3 linked regions of the Homo sapiens genome follow. The protein of the gene in region 2 interacts with the protein of the main gene of each other region in a biochemical or structural test. Each region holds a gene or a part of one and is shown on either strand. Other genes may lie near its edges. The genes, in order: TRPV1, AKAP5 and IQGAP1.

What was found.
Region 1: the proteins of AKAP5 (region 2) and TRPV1 form a complex in vitro, tested with the Homo sapiens proteins (one study listed by BioGRID).
Region 3: the proteins of AKAP5 (region 2) and IQGAP1 form a complex in vitro, tested with the Homo sapiens proteins (one study listed by BioGRID).

What each region holds. Positions count from the first base shown.
Region 1 is NC_000017.11:3,574,809-3,578,458, reverse strand, and holds part of TRPV1 (transient receptor potential cation channel subfamily V member 1), read left to right. Parts: intron 1-695; coding exon 696-861; intron 862-1,266; coding exon 1,267-1,333; intron 1,334-3,650.
Region 2 is NC_000014.9:64,464,052-64,468,423, forward strand, and holds the start of AKAP5 (A-kinase anchor protein 5), read left to right. Parts: upstream 1-1,447; 5' UTR 1,448-1,562; intron 1,563-4,080; 5' UTR 4,081-4,343; coding exon 4,344-4,372. UniProt on the Homo sapiens protein: Multivalent scaffold protein that anchors the cAMP-dependent protein kinase/PKA to cytoskeletal and/or organelle-associated proteins, targeting the signal carried by cAMP to specific intracellular effectors.
Region 3 is NC_000015.10:90,485,733-90,489,382, reverse strand, and holds part of IQGAP1 (ras GTPase-activating-like protein IQGAP1), read right to left. Parts: intron 3,354-3,650; coding exon 3,251-3,353; intron 2,430-3,250; coding exon 2,294-2,429; intron 1,889-2,293; coding exon 1,801-1,888; intron 1-1,800. UniProt on the Homo sapiens protein: Plays a crucial role in regulating the dynamics and assembly of the actin cytoskeleton.

The sequences.
Region 1 (3,650 bases), on a different chromosome or scaffold from region 2:
AGGCTGGTCTTGAACTCCTGACCTCAAGTGATCTGCCTCCCAAAGTTCTGGGATGACAGGTGTGAGCCATCACGCCTGGCCACTATATATCCTTTTATGTACTTTTTATTTATTTATTTATTTGTTTATTTATTTGTTTATTTATTTATTTGAGACGGAGTCTCGCTCTGTCTCCCAGGCTGGAGTGCAGTGGCATGATCTTGGCTCACTGTAACCTCCGCCTCCCGGGTTCAGGTGATTCTCCTGCCTCAGCCTCCTGAGTAGCTGGGATTACAGGCGTGCACCACCATGCCTGGCTAAATTTTTTTTTGTATTTTTAGTAGAGGTGGGGCTTCACCATGTTGGTCAGGCTGGCCTCGAACTCCTGACCTTGTGCTCCGCATGCCTCAGCCTCCCAAAGAGCTGGGATTAAAGGCGTGAGCTACTGCGCCTGGCCTTTAGGTACTATATTTATATCTGTGCTTTATACATAAAGAGTGAGATTTTGCACAGCTCCTCACCAAGCCAATTTCTGCTCCTTGGGGACGATGCTGCTTCCACGGAGAACGCCTGGGCTGAAAGAGTCAGGACAGCCCAACCCTAGCTCCTATTGCGGCCTGCAGTCTGGACCTCTGAGCGGCCTGTGACCTTTTGTTCTGGGGGTGCCAGGCCTCCTGGGTTCCCGTAGACGGAGCTTTCTGCCCCTCCACCCGCAGCTTTCTGCAGTCACTGTTCATGCTGGCCACCGTGGTGCTGTACTTCAGCCACCTCAAGGAGTATGTGGCTTCCATGGTATTCTCCCTGGCCTTGGGCTGGACCAACATGCTCTACTACACCCGCGGTTTCCAGCAGATGGGCATCTATGCCGTCATGATAGAGAAGGTGGGTTCCCTGGGCCCCAGTGGGTCTCCTCAGAGCCCGCTTACCTCGTGGTCATGTGAGATGGGGCCAAGAACTCCGCCCATCCTCTCTGTCGTGCCTGGGAAGGGGCTGGTTTACCCCCCAGCCTATTTTCCAAGAATCAAGCAATCTGGCCCTGACCCAGGTATGTGTAGGGGGGTCCCCTGAAACCTGACCCCCCCTGCACACCAGGCCTCCATCTCCCGACCAGAACAAAGGCTATGGGGGAAGGGTGGGTGACTCCCTCATGACCCCTGAGCTGAGAACCAGCAAAGCAAACCGCCCTGCACGTTCTCAAGACGCATCCCCAGGCCGATGCGGCCCGGCCCTTCCCTCAGCTCCTCCTGGGCCTGGCCTCGGCTCTGATGAGCCTGCTGTCTCCTGCAGATGATCCTGAGAGACCTGTGCCGTTTCATGTTTGTCTACATCGTCTTCTTGTTCGGGTTTTCCACAGGTAATGAGCTTGGTCAGCGCTGGGGGAGGGCAGGGGTCCTGCTTGGCTGAGCCTTCTGAAGACTCTGCCAGGAGCTGAATGAGAAGGCACTGGGTAGGCAGGTGCATGTCTGCAGGTGACTGAGAGGGTGGACAGAGGACACACTGAAATGAGCTCCAGGACTTGGCCACGTGTTATATAAAATGCTTTAAGAATTTTCCAGGCTGGAAGTGCTGTGGCTGCCACATAGCATTTTGGCTCAGTTGTTTTTTCAACTTTTTTTTTTTTTTTTTTTTTTGAGATGGAGTCTCACTCTGTCGCCAAGGCTGGAGTGCAGTGGCACGACCTTGGCTCACTGCAACCTCTGCCTCCTGGGTTCAAGCAATTCTCCTACCTCAGCCTCCCAAGTAGCTGGGATTACAGGCGCCCACGACCATGCCCGGCTAGTTTTTATGCATATATATATATATATATATATTTTTTTTTTTTTTTTCTCATACAGAGTCTAGCTCTCTTGCCCAGGCTGGCGTGCAGTGGCGCGATCTCGGCTCACTGGAGGCTCCGCCTCCCGGGTTCACGCCATTCTCCTGCCTCAGCCTCCCGAGTACCTGGGACTACAAGTGCCTGCTACCACGCCTGGCTAATTTTTTGTATTTTTAGTAGAGATGGGGTTTCACCATGTTAGCCAGGATGGTCTCGATCTCCTGACCTCGTGATCCGCCTGCCTCGGCCTCCCAAAGTGCTGGGATTACAGGCATGAGCCACTGCACCTGGCTAGTTGTTATATTTTTAATAGAGATGGGGTTTTACCATATTGGCCAGGCTGGTCTCAAACTCCTGACCTGAGGTGATCCACCCACCTTGGCCTCCCAAAGTGCTGGGATTACAGGCATGAGCCACAGTGCCTGGCCATTAATTATTTTTTGAGACAGAGTCTCATGCTGTTGCCCAGGCTGGAGTGCAGTGGCGCCATCTCAGCTCACTACAACCTCCACTTCCAGGGTTCAAGTGATTCTTGTGCCTCAGCCTCCCCAGTAGCTGGGATTACAGATGCCCGCCACCACACCTGGCTATTTTTTTTTTTTGTATTTTTAGTAGAGACGGGGTTTTGTCATGTTGGTCTTGAGCTCCTGACCTCAAGTGATCTGCCCGCCTCGGCTCCCAAAGTGCTAGGATGACAGGGTGAGCCACCGCGCCTGACCTTAGTCTTCTTTAATCCAGGGCACTTCCTGCATCATTCCTTGTCATTTGCGACCTCAGAATTTGTAATGAGTAGAGGCCAGTGGTTTTGACAATGTTTCTCAATTTGGGTGTGTCTGATGTTTCCTCACGATTATAGCCAGGCATGCATTTTTGGCCAGAATATCAAGAAGCCATGTGTGTCTTCTGCTGTGTGTTTTATTGGGAGTCACATGATGTCCGTCTCACTTCTGGTGACGTTAGCTTTGATGACTTGGTTTTGGTGGATCTGCCAGACTTTTCCACTGTAAAGCTACTATATTTACCTTTGTGATGGATACTTTTCAAGGAGATGCTTTGAAACTATGTGACTAGCCTGTTTCTCATCAGACTTTCACCAGGAGTTCTAGCATCCGTTGATGAGTCTTACCTGAATCACTTCATCCTGTGATGGTGGCCAAATGATGATTTTTTTTTTTTTTCTTGAGAAGGAGTCTCTGTCTGTCGCCCAGGCTGGCATGCAGTGGTGCCATCTCTGCTCACTGCAACCTCGGCCTCCCAGGTTCAAGCAATTCTCCTGCCTCAGCCTTCCAGGTAGCTGGGATCACAGCTGCCCATCATCACGCCCGGCTAATTTTTATATTTTTAGTACAGATGGGGTTTTACCATGTTACTCAGGCTGGTCTCAAACTCCTGACCTCAGGTGATCCGCCTGCCTTGGCCTCCCGAAGTGCTGGGATTACAGGCATGAGCCACCACACCCAGAGAAGATGATCTTCTAACTCCATCATTGCTTCTGCATTTATTACCTGGCATTCTGTTATAGAGAAGAGCTAACCATTCCCCATTTCTATGTATTTGTTTGTATCAGAATGGCCTCATGGAGTCTTTTGTTTTCATGGATTCTCACTTTGTTAAATGGGTTATAATCCTTACTATCCTCTTTTATTTTAATACTCAAATTGTCTGAGATTAGTCACTGGAGTCCCTTCCAGCTGGCTCCTGTGCTCTTTTCACATGTCCACATCTTTTTTTTTTTTTTTTTTTTTTGAGATAGAGTCTCGTTCTGTCGCCCAGGCTGGAGTGCAGTGGCGCGATCTGCAAACTCTGCCTCCCAGGTTCAAGCAATTCTCCTGCCTCAGCCTCCCAAGTAGCTAGG
Region 2 (4,372 bases):
GAGGCAGGGTCTCACTTTGTTGCCCAGGCTGGCGTGCAGTGGTGCAGTAGTGGCTCACAGCAGCCTTGACCTTCTGGGCCCAAGTGATCCTCCCTTCTCAGCCTCCTGAGCTCCTGAGTAACTGGGACCATACGTGCACCACCATGCCCAGCTAATTTTTTAGATTTTTTTGTCTCCCTATGTTGCCCAGGCTGGTCTCAAACTCTTGGACTCAAGCCATCCTCCTGCCTTGGCCTCCCAAAGTGCTGGGATTACAGGTGTGAGCTACTGCGCCCATCCCTGAATTCTTAATTACAACTAAACTAGATGCTTATGGATTTTCCTGTTTTACAACTCTTGCCTCTTTTATCTGTAATTTTAAGATCTTGACAGCTTATATTTGGCTTTGCTTTTGTGTCTCAAGAGTTCTTTCCTTGATAAGCCTCTGTGGAAACTACAGAATCTTACAAATATAAAACATTTCCGGAAAAAATACAAAAATGGACACCTGACATTTACACTCCCTAAGGTCGTGATCCTGTTGAAGAAAGGAGATGAACGCGGCTGCTTTTCAGTAGTTCTTCACTTCACCTTACCAGGTTCTTCATCTGGATGCTATGCTATGGGGGCCAGAGGAGGAGGCTGGGATTGTGATGGATCCTACTAGATTTTACAGCTGGAGCTCCCAGGAATGCCCTCATAGGGAATGTCCTGAAGGGAATCATGGGTAACTTGTAAGCTACCTCAACTTATTTTTGGAACTATGTAAGGTATAAGATGGATGGAGCTGGGTTCCTGTGCCTTTCTCACCTTGTCCGCATAGAGATGCAGCTGCTCCTGCAGGCCAAAGTTCTGCACCAATCACCTCCACCTGCTTCCCACTGGGAGACAAAGGTTTGAAAGCCTGTTTGGCGATGAACCACGATGATCTGACACTCAAGCCACTCCTGAGAAAGTCGGGTTTCTTTCTGTTTCCATTTATATATGTAATTTTCGCTTCAAACAAACATGACCTCGCTATTCTATGCACAGTTTTGAATCCTGCTTTTAAAATGCGATGTCTGCCTTGTCTTTAAATATTCTGAGGGGGAGGAGAGGAGATGTGTAATGCGACTGTCTATAATTTGAAACCGGACCTCACTATTTAGCGTCTCAGAAAACGCGGGGTTCATTGCCCTGGTCCCCCCCGCCTTCCCCCGCCCCCCGAACCTTCCGGCTGGCTCTCTTGCGGTCCCCGCCTCGGCGCTGATGTGGTCTGGCAGTGGAGATTGGCGCCCGGGCGGAGCACGATGGGCTTCCCCGCGGCAGGCAGGCAGGCTGCTGCTGCAGGTGGGTCCCGGCGCCCGCGCCGCCCCGCGCCTCCGGCGGTCGCCCCGCCCCTGCCCGCCCGCTCCGCTCCGCTCGCATTGGCGCTGCCTGCTGTCTGTCCCCGCGCGGTGGGGAGGGGGCGCACCCGGCGGCGGGCTCTGCAGAGGGCGCCTTGCTCCGGGTGCGACCGCGGCTCCCTGGAGGCCTGGGCGGCGGGCCCCGCGAGCGCGCCGCCACCTCGGGAGCAGTGTTGGCCAAGGACCCCGACGCCCTACGTAAGTAAAGGCAGGGCGGGGAGCCTGCGGGGGAGGAGGGTCGGGGGCAATGTCCGGTCCGCGGACCGCGGAGTGGGCAAGAGGTGCCCACTGGATACGGGGTATCCGAGCCCTCTGAGGTGCTGGGAGTAAGAACGCGGGAGGTCGCTTGTCCGCTGGAATCCGCGGCCAGGGCGACCCTCATCAGGTCTGCCCACCTATCCCCTTCGCGTTACAGCTTGTCTTAGAAGCATGGGTTGCCGGTGGCTTTTTTCCTTCTTTATCCCTCTTTGAGAAATGTGATTTTGGGTTTCTGGCCATTACATTATAATTCTGCAGACAGCCTGAAGCTGGGTTATCTGTTCCACGCCCCCGGCATTTTCCTTTTTGAGTACTTTATCCTGCGCTCTGTCTCCTGCCATAAGGGGCGTCAAGCCAGAATTCGAGATTCCTTCCTCCAGGAGGAAGCTTCGTGGTCCGTATCTGGTGCTGGGAAAGATGCATTGCTTTCCTCGGGTACTGGCTGCTCAAGGGAAAAAGGAAAGGGGGTGTTTTCTGTGACATGAGACTTGCAATTCCATCAGGAAATGAGCACAGGGACTTTAAGATTTCCTGAGGCGATAAAGCTACCCTTGCTGGTTAAGAGCGAATCATTTGCAGTCTGACATTCTGCAAAGTTTTATTGTCTACAGACTGCATTATTTTCCCTCGTTAGTTAAGTTTCTGTTTGGGTATTCGTTTTATTTCTAGTATGTGAGATACATTCAAGTGAGCTTCTCAAACGATTGTCTTTGCGCAATCCAGGTTAGTTTCCAATGACAGACTCCTAAACATCTCATTTCAATATTTCTATTATGTGGTAATACAGCCTCTGCTTAACAAAAATGCTCAGGTGCTGAAAACTCACAAGAGGTGAGAAGATTTAAACAGTTATCAGCTTAGGTTCTAGTGCTCACTGAAACATTGTGAGGAGAAACACTGTCAAATGTTCATATTTTAGTTCCGTCATTGTTCTAGAATGACTTTATCTTTCTGTTAGAGGCACACAGTATGAAACACCCAACCTAAGATAATATTTACTTAGATCATAAACTGATTTTCAGGGTTCCAGTTCCTTCTACAGTTCATAAAATTATGGGTTACCCAAATGAAACTTCAGTGAAGGATTTACATAAAAACAATATAAAGAATGAGTCCCTTTGCTTATTTTAGGGCATCCACCCACTAAAATTCATAGGATCTTTGTTGGATAATCACCTCCCATTTCCATTCTTTGGTGCCATCATACCATTCTAAGGATTAAATTTTCAATACACCTTTATATTATCTAAGTTTGCCAATTGCATAGTTTGCCAACTTATTTTTGGCTTTTAAATTAGTTCCTGAACCAAAAAAATAAAATATAAAGAATTTCAAAAGCTTGGTTTTCAAATGACAAGAACTCAGTCTACTCGTGGTTCAATTATGAGTTGATAAGTGCCTTATGGTTAAATGACCATTAATCAATTTTTTAATTTTTTTACTAATGAAACACTGCAGATTAGTATCCCCAAACAATTCATTTTCTGACGAAACTCTTAAAGCCCAGTTTCAGAACATAAGCTTTAAGCAACAAGCAATCTTGTGTTAATCTGAGCTCTGTTACAGCTCTGCCGTAATCTCAGCCAAATTGCTTCATCTGTACGTGGTGATACCACCATCTTTGTAATATTGTGGTGAGGATTAGAGATGTATGTAAAAGTGCATGCACTGCCTAATACCCAAGAATTGCTCAATAAATGTCAGCTATTACTACTCTTACTGACTTCCAACTATGTGCAGATTATGGTGGAAACATGTGATACAGCAGATACAGTACTTAAATGAAAATGTCAAAATTGTACAACTAATTTAAGAGTGGGAAATGACAGTAATGCTAAATTTTCCTAAGAATATGTATGAAAAATAGCACTTCCTTGATGGAACATACATTTTTAGAACAGAAACCTTATGTTATAATGGTAAAACTAGAGAGTCAAAGTCTCTAGTTCTAACTCTGGCTATGACCTTATCTAGTTGCATGGCTTTTGACAAGACAACTGCTCCCCTCTGGAGTTCAGTTTTGTCATCTGGCTGGATTTGAGTAATCTCAAATAATCTCTAAAGTCCTTTGCAGCTTTAAAATTATCTATTGAGTGTGATAAAGATTACATCAGCTTGCTTTTCATCCTGCACTTCATTTTTGGTTCTTGTTGTTTGCTTAACTTGCACTTTAGAGTCATAAGCAATTCACACAGACAACACAACTAAAGAACTGATAATATCAGACTTGCAGGGTAATCCAAAATGAAGTTTCAACAAGGAGGATAAAACAAAATAGAATCACACTGAACTCTTTAATAGGGCCAAAGTAAACCCCAATGTTTATTCTCCAGTCATTTCATTAAGTTATTATATGGAAAATATGCCTGGTAGAATCTTATACATTCACTGAAATAGTCTCCACAGAAAATAATAGGCTCATAGTGAAATAAAATACCACTTTCTTTTCTCTCATCAGGTTGATCTTTAAATAAAGCAAAAATTTATCCAAAGAAGGGCTTTCATCAAGAAATTAAAGAGAGAAATTACAAGCCATAGAGAAACTGGGCATTTCTATACTAGAGAAACCACCTAAAACAACTGTATGGAGTAAGATGAAAGGTATGAATATGCCTGGAAGAAATTTTACCTAGTGTGACATTTTTGCTCATCTTTTTGTCACAAAAGGCTGCTAAGGAAGAGAGAATACAGTTTTCTAGAGAATAAGAGTGCAGTGTAAAAATGGAAACCACAATTTCAGAAATTCATGT
Region 3 (3,650 bases), on a different chromosome or scaffold from region 2:
GCCACAGTGGGTGGGTCATTTGAGGTCAAGAGTTTGAGACCAGCCTGGCCAACATCGTGAAATCCTGTCTCTACTAAAAATACAAAAATTAGCCAGGTGTGGTGGTTCACACCTGTAGTCCAGCTACTCGGGAGGCTGAGGCAGGAGAATCGCTTGAACCCAGGAGGCGGAGGTTGCAGTGAGCCAAGATCACGCCACTGCAGTCCAGCCTGAGTGAGAGTGAGACTCTGTCTCAAATTAAAAAAAAAAAAAAAAAAGAAACAAGGGTCTTAGATATGACATGACTCATCCAACCCTACAAAATGCCAGGACCCAACCATCTGCCCACCCCACTGGACCTTATCACACACCTATATGACTCAACTACATCTGCTCTAATAGCACTGCTGAATTAATTAACTTTTATTAAATGGTCTTCAACCTTACAGAGGCTCTTTATTCCTTATCTCTGCAGTGACAAATTCCCATCTAGTTTGTGAGTTCTAAATAATTTGGTCTCATGTTTTATTTCTCACTACTCACCTCCACCCACAGCTCCATTCTAGACATGTAGTCTAGTCGCATCATGCTCTTCCCTCCTTTGTACCTTTGTTCACATCGCTCTCCTGCCTCGAATGCCCTCTCTTGTCTTACATGCACACCCAAATCCTTTCCACCTTTATACATCTGGCTCCGGTTCCACTTCTTTTAGGAAGCTTCCTAATGCACTGCTTCACTGGCCTCTTTCCTGAAACTTCTCTTATTTTTCAGTCAGTAACATAGTTAATTTTGAAACAGTTCATCACTGTTTCAGGTATATATGTCACATTTCCCCAACAAGACCATGGGTTCACTGAGTTTAGGAGCCACATTCTGTACTTTTCTTCTATCTACCAAGGCATGTAACAGAATTCAAAATATATAATATTCAATAAATTGCAGTGAACCCTACACATTCATGGTTTCAACCAACCCTGAAACTGTTTGAAAAAAAAATACAACAATACAAAATAATACAAATTTTAAAAATACAGTAACAACTATTTACACAGCATTTATATTGTAGTAGGTATTATAAGTAGTCTAGAGATGATTTAAAGTATATGGGAGAACGTAAGTATATGCAAATACTACAACATTTTATTTATTTATTTATTTATTTATTTATTTATTATTATTTTTTGAGACGGAGTCTCGCTCTGTCGCCCAGGCTGGAGTGCAGTGGTGCGATCTTGGCTCAATGCAGGCTCCGCCTCCTGGGTACATGCCATTCTCCTGCCTCAGCCTCCCAAGTAGCTGGGACTACAGGCATCTACCACCTAGCCTGGCTAATTTTTTGTATTTTTAGTAGAGACGGGGTTTCACGTGTTAGCCAGGATGGTCACAATCTCCTGACCTCGTGAACTACCCACCTCAGCCTCCCAAAGTGCTGGGATTACAGGCATGAGCCACCATGCCCGGCCAAATACTACACCATTTTATATAAGGGACTTCAACATCTATGGATTTTGGTATTGGCCGGGGGTGGGGAGAATGGGTGCTGGAAAGAATCGCCTGTGGATACCAAGGGATGGATATACGGGATGGGCACAATGATTCTGCATGCAAGTGCCAGTGAGCTTCCTGTCCAAAGGACATCACCTGGACTCAGGAAGCAAAAACTTTCTCAGACGAGCCATAACTACCACTGTCCCCCAGTTACATTCATGCTCACCCCTAGGCTACCAACTGTTATTTGTGTCTCCCCTCCTTTCTCTGACATGCGCCTATCGGGAGAGCTTATCTACCAAACAAAGGAGTATGTTAGACCCTAAATTTTACCTGTTCACTGGTGGCTGGTGTTTCTAGGATTTCAGTCAAGGTCTCTCCTGGCTGGAACCGGATGACATCCACAATTAAACGTTTTGTACTGAAACGAGATGGGGGAGGCATTTAAATATTACCAGTGTTCTAGTTCCTCTCAAGTGGACCGAAGCAGCAGCAGCAGCAGCAGCACAAACAGTACCTCACAGAAGTCCCAAGCGGCAGCTGCCAGTACACAGTACTCAAGGCACAAGGCTTATTTACCCAGCCATTCCATAAGTAGGTACGAGGGTTAGGATTTCCAAGATTTACATTTCACTGTAGCATATTAGCAAAATAAGGCAGATAAGTCCTGTACCAAGTACAATATGCGAGGTGATTGGTGACTGGGATTATGACAAGTACGAGAGGTCAGGATGGTCATTTCAGGTAGGACCCAGCAGGTTCCTCTCCAAAGGCCAAGAAACCTTCAGATTACATTCATTTCATTCTTCCTTCTTTTGATACTCACTTCAGTAAGATGGTTCGAGCATCCATTTCTGCATTCTCATCTCCAGGCACGTCGAACTTGTTGGTCAGGGTGAGAGACACTTCCGTCTTAGCCAGTGCCTCCTTATTTGGGTCATTTAAATTGCCAGAGCTTTCCCCTGAAGTTTTGGGAGGGTGGAAAGAGTCAGCGTAATAAAGAGAGGAGATATTGGGGGGAAATAATACAAATATAAGATGATGCAAGTCTAAGATAATACTTGAATCACCTAACACATACAGTGTGACGAGAACAACTTTTACTGAGAAATAAAATGTTATGCCAAATGATAAAGGCAAGGGATCCATAATAACTCCATAAATGTTTGAGAAATCATTTCAACACTACAATATCACAATTCTCTCTGAAAACATTCTTTCTGGCTGGGTGCAGTGGCTCAGTCCTGCAATCCCAGCACTTTGGAAGGCTAAAGGAGGAGGATGGCTTGAGGCCAGGAGTTCGAGACCAGCCTGGGCAACATAGTGAGACTCCATCTCTATTAAAAAAAAAAAAAACAACTCAGGAGGATCACTTGAGCCTAGGAATTTGAGGCTGCAGTGAGCTATGACTGCACCACTGTACTTCAGCCTGGGCAACAGAGGGAGACCCTGTCTCATAACAAACAAACAAAAAAATTCTTTCCTTTAGAGGACTTTTAATTTATGTATCTGCAATTTTTTTAAAAAAACACAAGCTGGCAGTATGTATCTGCGTTTAAAATGATCTTTTCCTCTGACTCCAGTTCCTTATAGATATTGATCACATCTGGGCTTTTGTTGTTGTTGTTGTTTTCTCTCTTATGAAACTATCAGGATCACATCTATTTTATTTCTCAATGTATATCCAGAGTTTGGTATAGTGCAAAAAATAGAGGAGGTGACAATTACAACACTTTTCTGTCACATTCCCTTTTGATCTTCCAGGCAAAAGTTAGAACTCTACCTATCAGGGACTCGATGGTGGGCACCTCGCCGAGGTCGTCCAGCAGTTCGTGGATTGGATCATTGTGCTCCGGAGCAATGGCATCCTGGTGATCCAACAGGAGCTGCAAACACCAATGATCAACTCCATTTATACATTCAACTCTTCAGCCCGTCCCTCCCTAGAATGTCTAACAATGATCTGCACAAAGAGGTTCCAACAAAGTTCCTATATTCAAAGAAACAACAAGCAAATCCTCAGCAAACTAACCCAAATAAACAATATGATATATAAGGCACCACACCAGGCTCTGTTGAATGACTTATGTTATGATATAAGAAGAGGAAATACTGGTATTCTCTTAACCTCATGGCCATAAAGGATTCAAATGTGCCCTGTTTGAGAAAGAACACTGGCTGGG